2 linked regions of the Homo sapiens genome follow. The protein of the gene in region 2 interacts with the protein of the main gene of each other region in a pairwise test. Each region holds a gene or a part of one and is shown on either strand. Other genes may lie near its edges.

Region 1 (3,750 bases), on a different chromosome or scaffold from region 2:
CTCCAGCCTGGGCGACAGAGCAAGACTCTGTCTCAAAAAAAAAAAAAAAAAAAAAAAAGCTTTATTTGGAAGCAGGGCTAAAGTTGTTTTGATTTCAGTGGGACCAGACTGTTTAGTTCATGTGTGTGACTAGAGAAGCAATGGGCTCTGGCCATGGGTAGGAGATGCAGCCAAACTAGTGTGAGGACAATAAAGTTGTGGCTGGTTTACTTTTCCAAAGTCCAGTCTGCTCAGTAAACCTGGTTAACATGTGCAAGCGCATCTGTGTCTGCAGCCACAGGGCCCAGGGCCATGGAGCTGGGAAAGGAGGAGAGGTCTAGCCCCTCTGCTTGTGGCTGGGCTGGCGTCATCTTCCCAGAAGCAGTAGCCCTTTCCCATGTTGGGGGACAGGCAGGGCTGGGGCTTTGGGGAGCCAGGGACACGGCTGCACACAGGGACCCTCTGGCTCTGGTCCTGCCCTTTGGGCTCCCTGTCTGTGGACAGGCCCCATAAACCTTGGTGCCTCATGGGACCCAAACAGGTGCTGAGCCCAAGTGGGAACGTGAATTCTGGTGTGAGGATAGAGTGGTAGGGGAAGGCTTTTGGAGGAAGCGGACTTTGAGTTGAGTCTTGCAGAAGGAGGATTTCAGGATGCACAAAAGAGGAACTGGTGTTCTTGGTGGAAGAAATGGACGCGTGCAAAGTCTGGGAAGTGTGTGTGCCCACACGGCTGGCACAGCCAGAGTGTGAGGCCCATGAAGGGGTGTGATGGGATGTGGATTTGGAACACTTGATATTACCATGATTATTGCCCTTAAAGCAGCGTCCACATTGGCCATAACCAATCTGGGCCTTGCTTCCCTCCTCTGTAACCTGGGGAGAATTGCTCTATTTCTTCTTGGGCCCACAATATGCCCTGGCAATAAATGAGTCCTATTTTCTCAAATTAACACATTAACCCAATGCTCAGAGGACACCTTTTACAGTCAGAAAAGCTCAGGCTCAAATCCCAGTTCTGCCCCTTCTTCACTGTGGAACTCCTGGTAAGCTTCTCTCTCTGTTTTTTTCCCCCAAGATGGAGTCTTGCTCCATTGCCCAGGCTGGAGTGCAGTGGCGCAATCTCAGCTCACTGCAACCTCCACCTCCCGCGTTCAAGCGATTCTCCTGCCTCAGCCTCCCAAGCAGCTGGGATTATAGGTGCCTGCCACCATGCCCAGCTAATTTTTTGTATTTTTAGTAGAGACAGGGTTTCACCATATTGGCCAGGCCGGCCTTGACCTCCCAAAGTGCTAGGATTACAGACATGAGCCACCGCGTCCAGCCAAGCTTCTCTTTACTGATCTGTAAAATGGGGATAACAAGCTCTACTCAGAAGGAGTGATCAACATAATTGTACATAAAGGCCGGGCGCAGCATGAGCCTGTGGAAACAGGAGTTCCTCGCCCCCCAACCCTGTCCCCACCTCCATAGAGGCTCTCACTTACATAGGAGGCCAGCAGGGTGGTCGGGGCCAGGACGAGAGCCAGGTAGAGGCAGGGGGCTGTGGCAAGCAGGCTGGAGGCGCAGATGAGGGGCTCAGCTCCTGGAATGACTTTCTTGTACCTCCTCGCAGCTTCTGCCCCCAAGATGACCCCAATGACGCCGGTCATGATGGTCAGTGCCCCAAAAATCAGGCTGATGGGGAAGAGCACAGAAGGGTTGGTCAGCTGGGTGAGCTTAGCATAGGGACTCTTATCCTGCTCCCAGCCCCAGGTCTAGCCCCTCGGCTCAAGTGCATGATCTGGTGTCTACAGGGAATATGGCTGTGGGCCCCTGACCTGACCCAGAACCTTACCCACCCTCCTCACTGATACTCCCAGGGACCAATGTCCCACTGCTCTCCCCTACCCCCTTTCCTGCCTCATCTCCTGTCTCATCCTGGGGATCCCACTGGCCATGTGGGTGATCACCCTGCACCCCAGGTCCCAGCCTGCCTCATCTCCATTGACCCTTACCCTTTCACCCCCCAAAACTGCCCCACTCAAAATCTGAATTCCAGGGTCCCACCCTGGCCCCAACCTTCTCTCTTTCCAGCTCCCAGTACTAAGAGGAATGGAGGGAAGCAAACATGTATTTACTGAGCCCCTGTGATACACCTGGCCCTTGTCTGGGCTCTCTACACGCCCTCCCTCCTTGAATCCCATCCTTCCACTCCCCGTCTTTGAACCCCTCTCAGGCAGCCCCTACCTGACTTCCGTCCCTTTCCCACCCACTTTTAGAGCCACTTCTACTCTGCTTGGCTTCCCCTTGTACATCCTTCCTGTGGAGACCTGTCCCTCCAAAATAACCTCCACAAAGGCTCCCCAGGAGTGCATTTTGTGGCAGGAGATCTGTGGTGGGAGGAGTTCCAGATCAGAAAGATTTTGTCTCTACAAAAAATTTTTAAATCATCCAGCCTTGGTGGCGTGCACCTGTAGTCCCAGCTACTCAGGAGGCTGAGGCGGGAGGATCGCTTGAGCTCAGAAGTTCGAGGCCACAGTGAGCTATGATCATACCACTGCACTCCAGCTTGGGCAACAATTCCCAGATGGATAGGTGAGCAAGGTGAGGCTGAGAAAAGTCAAGGCCAAGATTACCCAGCTGGTAAATTACAGACCAGGATTTGAATATACTTCTTCACCCTCCTGGTCCATTGTGCAACCTCCAGCCCCCTTTTAAAGGAGCTCAAAGGGGACCAGGCAAGGTGGCTTAAGCTTGTAATCCCAGCACTTTGGGAGGCCGAGGTGGGTGGATCACTTGAGGTCAGGAATTCAAGACCAGCCTGGCCGATACAGCAAAACCCCGTCTCTACTAAAAAAAAAAAAAAATACAAAAATTAGCTGGGAACAGTGGTGGGCACCTGTAATCCCAGCCCACTCAGGAGGTTGAGGCAGGAGAATCACTTGAATCCGGGAGGTGGAGGTTGCAGTGAGCTGAGATCACACCACTGCACTCCAGCCTGGGCAAGAGAGCAAGACTCCGTCTCAAAAACAAAACAAAACAAAACAAATAAAGGAGCTCAAAGGGAACGCTGAGACTGTGCCCACTGTGAACTCTTGAAAACACCAGTCCAACCAGGATCTTTCCAACCTCTCAATAGCTCCCTGTCGTCCTCTGAGCAAGCTCCTGACCAGCACTGATGACTCTGCGGGACTGGTCCACGCTGACCGATGTAGCTTGCCCTCTCTTCTCCCACCCTCACTTTGCACAAATGACTGAGAATTCTCTAAATTCTCTACCAAAAGTACAAAAATTAGCTGGGCGTGGTGGTGTGCGCCTGTAGTCCCAGCTACTTGGGAGGCTGAGGCAGGAGAATCGCTTGAACCCGGGAGGCCGAGGTTGCAGTGAGCCGAGATCGTGCTACTGCACTCCAGCCTAGCAACACAGCAAGACTCTGTCTCAAATGGAAAAAAAAAAAAAACAAAGAAGAAGAAGAAGAAGTGCTTTCTAAACCTTCCCAGGCTTCCAAGCTGTGCGAGGTCTGGCTCAGCCCAGTCAAATGACCCAAATCCCGGATGTATGCTAGCTGCCTCTGAGTCCTGGTCTGGGCTGACCTTGGCAGGTTCTCGAGATATTCATGAGACTTAGGATTGATTATTTAGACAGGCTGCCTGAAAATGCACCCCCGCCAGCCCCTAAGCAGGAGGGGCAGCCAGAGGACATGCCCCAGCTACCAAGCCCTTCATGTTCCCTCCATCCACACAGGGCCCTCCCAGCATCACAGACTCTTACAGCCAAGAGAGCCCTTAAGGA
Region 2 (3,750 bases):
TAGTTCTATCTCCCCCAGGTTGGAGGATTGGGCTGGGACCAGCTGATAGGAAACCCAGTTGAGGCATGAGCCTGAAAAAACTCTTGAAATACAGACATCTGTGAGTCATTAACTCTGCCTGAGAAGAAACCAGGGACAGCTTCTCAAAGGAGGTGGCATTGCACCAGGGTCTTGAAAGATTTTCTCAGAATATTAGAGCTAAAGGAATATATACATTTTTTTATTTTGGGGTTGGTGTGGGCTGCTCTGGAGGCCAAGCCTGGAGATCAGGGACCTGGGAAGGGGCCCTGAGAGGGGCAGAAGGGAGGAATGTGCCTGGGCGCAGTGGCCACGCCTGTAATCCCAGCACTTCAGGAGGCCGAGGCGGGCAGATCGCTTGAGGTCAGGAGTTCGAGACCAGCCTGGCCAACATGGCGAAACCCCATCTCTATTATAAATACAAAAATTAGCTCGGCATGGTGGCGGGTGCTGTAATCCCAGCTACTCAGGAGGCTGAGGCAGGAGAATCACTTGAACCCAGGAGGCGGAGGTTGCAGTGAGCTGAGACCGCAGCATTGCACTCCAGCCTGGGTGACAGAGTGACACTCAGTTTCAAAAACAAACAAACAAACAACAACAACAAAAAAAAACAGGGATGGGAGGTGGGGAGCAATTTGGGAGTCTCAGATGGAGACTTGGTCTTAGAACTCAGAAATCCCCACCTTGAGGAACCCACGCACCCTGAGCCAGCAGCCTCATCAGCCTCGAAGCATTTATTGAGCACTGCCTGTACATCCACAGGAGGGTGATGACAGGATTGGCACAGTGACCGTCCTGTCCCCTTGTTGGGGGTCTCTCCTCTTCCCCCTCTAGGAGCTGAGGGAGCTGAGGAGCGGCATGAGGGACAGGGAGGGGGCGGCAGAGCTTCCTGGGGCCTCAAGGACAATCCTTTCCTGTACCCATTCTTCAGATGGGGAAACTGAGGCCATGGAGGCGTTAGGACGCCCTGAGTCACCCAGCAGGGACTGAAGGGGTTCTGGGTGGAGGTTAGGACATCTTAGGCTCAGTGCCCGGGGATCACGTACTCCTCTTCATCCATTGGGGCCTGGCCCAGTGACTGCAGGTTACAGTAGACAGGCTGGGAAGCCAGGTCGATGTCCTTGTAGTTGATGTAAAAGTCATTGTCCTCTGAAGGGTGAGCCCTGGGGGGACAGACAGACCAGGGGTAAGTGTGGGAGGGGGAGGACTCAGGGGACAGGCACATGAGCTTTGAGAAAGTCCAGAGTGGGCCAGGTGCTCTGACTCACGCCTGTAATCCAGCACTTTGGGAGGCTGAGGTGGGTGGATCACCTGAGATCATGAGTTCAAGACCAGCCTGGACAACATGATGAAACCTCGTCTCTACTAAAAATACAAAAATTATCCAGGCATGGTGGCACAGGCCTGTAGTCCCAGCTACTCGGGAGTCTGAGGCAGGAGAATCACTTGAACCCAGGAGGTAGAGGTTGTAGTGAGCCGAGATCGTGCCATTGCACTTCAGCCTGGGAGACAGAGCAAGACTCTATCTCAGAAGGAAAAAAAAAAAGAAAGCTTCAGAGTGGCTCAGTCCACCCCGAATATTTACATATGGGGAAACTGGCACGGGCTAGCGTTCTGACTCCTAGCCAACCCCACCTCTCTCTGAGGAGGCTGCGGGAGGGCAGTGATTTAGGGAAGGTTCTGTGGGTGTAACGCTGCGGTCTGAGGACCCTGAACCCTTTTTCCTTCCTTAAAAATGAGATAGCGGCCAGGCGCGGTGACTCATGCCTGTAATCCCAGCACTTTGGGAGGCCAAGGCAGAAGGTCTGCTTGAGGCCAGGAGTTTGAGACCATCCTGAGCAACAGGGTGAGACCCCATCTCTACAAAAAATTAAAAAATTATTCAGGCGTGGTGACGTGTGCCTGGAGTCCCATCTCCTCGGGAGGCTGAGGTGGGAGGACCGCTTGAGCCCAGGAGGTCGAGCCTACAGTGAGCCGTTATCACACCACTGCACTGCAGCCTGGATGACAGAGGGAGACCCCGTCTCAAAAAAAACAGAAATTGAGGTAGCTGTTCATTATTACATTAAAATCTAAATTTTTGTTTCCTCTTGAAAAATCGGAAGCTCTGGCCACGTCAGTCACATGCACACAAGTGGCTGCACCCACACTCTGTGCTCCTTCCGATGGGAAATGTTTTCACCACTGAAGCAACTGACTTTGTGGCCCTCATATATAAAAGCAAGTCTCTGAGCCTCAGTTTCTGCATCTATAGAATTGGTCAAGGAGCAGGTAGCTACTTAGGAATATTTGTTATGGTCAGCAAGACCTCCAGAGAATTTTCCTGCCTCCTGAACATTCTAATTCCAACCCAGCTCCTCTTGTAAAAAGGGCCACTGGGCCAGGTGCGGTGGCTCACGCCTATAATCCCAGCACTTTGAGAGGCCAAGGTGGGCAGATCACCTGAGGTCAGGAGTTCAAGACCAGCCTGGCCAACATGGCAAAACCCCGTCTCTACTAAAATTAGCCGGGTGTGATGGTGGGCGCCTGTAATCCCAGCTACTCGGGAGGCTGAGGCAGGAGGCAGGAGAATCACTTGAACCCGGGAGGTGAAGGTTGCAGTGAGCCGAGATCATGCCATTGCACTCTAGCCTGGGCGACAGAGCGGGAAAAAAAAAAAGGCAAAAGGGCTACTTTGTGTTAACAGCATCTATCAGTCAATTATACTCTAGTACGAATTGCCCACCAACCCCTAAGTGGTTGTAGGGGGACGAACAGGTCTGGGACGCAGGGTTTGTGTCCTGCCTTTTTTGACTGGCTATGTGACCTTGGACAAGTCATTTCCCTGCCTCCCAGAGCCTCCATGTCTGTAACTGTAAGATGCAGGGTGGAAATGACACAGTCAATTCTAAACACAGTGTTTCTGGAGGCCAGTACATAAAGGAGGCTGATCCGGAAGCCTCGGGGACAGGGAGGCCAAGATGAACATCAGAGCACAAGCTGCTTTTGCGAGTCCAGTGTCTTCAACACCCTGCCTCAGACCATTTCTGCTTTTGAGCCATGTTGACATCTGCTTTGCATATTTTCTCCTTTCTCACCAACAGCCTTCCGATAGCCTCCCCACCTCCTGGCACGGACTCTGCTGCCCAAACACAGCCATGGCCGCGGCCCCTTCCTGCTTGGCCCTCCCTGTTCCCCTCAGGCCTCAGCTTTCAAGTCATCCCTTCTCAAAAACCATTCACAGCAAATTCTCTGTTCTTTCCCACCTCTGGGTCTCTGCCCCTGAGGGTCCCACCCCTTGAAATTCCCTCCATTCCCTTTTCCAACCTAGAAAAGCTTTTCTTTTCTTTTTTTCTTTCTTTCTTTCTTTTTTTTTTTTTTTGAGACGGAGTCTCGCTCTGTCGCCCAGGCTGGGGTGCAGTGGTGCGATCTGGGCTCACTGCAACCTCCACCTCCTGGGTTCAAGTGATTCTTCTTGCCTCAGCCTCCCAAGTAGCTGGGATTACAGGCACCCACGACCATGCCCGGCTAATTTTTGTATTTTTAGTAGAGACAGGGTTTCACCATATTGGCCAGGCTGGTCTCGAACTCCTGACCTCGTGATCCTCCTGCCTTGGCCTCCCAAAGTGTTGGGATTACAGGCATGAGCCACCGTGCCCGGCCTAATTTTTGTATTTTTTAGTAGAAACAGGGTTCCACCATGTTGGTCAGGCTGGTCTTGAGGTCCTGACCACAGGTGATCTGACCTCGCCT

What was found.
Region 1: the proteins of LRRC25 (region 2) and SPNS3 interact in binary tests that used the Homo sapiens proteins (3 or more experiments, as listed by UniProt).

What each region holds. Positions count from the first base shown.
Region 1 is NC_000017.11:4,450,919-4,454,668, reverse strand, and holds part of SPNS3 (protein spinster homolog 3), read right to left. Parts: intron 1,654-3,750; coding exon 1,464-1,653; intron 1,321-1,463; coding exon of another isoform or gene 1,213-1,320; exon of another isoform or gene 83-1,212; intron 1-82. UniProt on the Homo sapiens protein: Sphingolipid transporter.
Region 2 is NC_000019.10:18,390,945-18,394,694, forward strand, and holds the end of LRRC25 (leucine-rich repeat-containing protein 25 precursor), read right to left. Parts: intron 1,182-3,750; coding exon 1,043-1,181; 3' UTR 193-1,042; downstream 1-192. UniProt on the Homo sapiens protein: Plays a role in the inhibition of RLR-mediated type I interferon signaling pathway by targeting RIGI for autophagic degradation.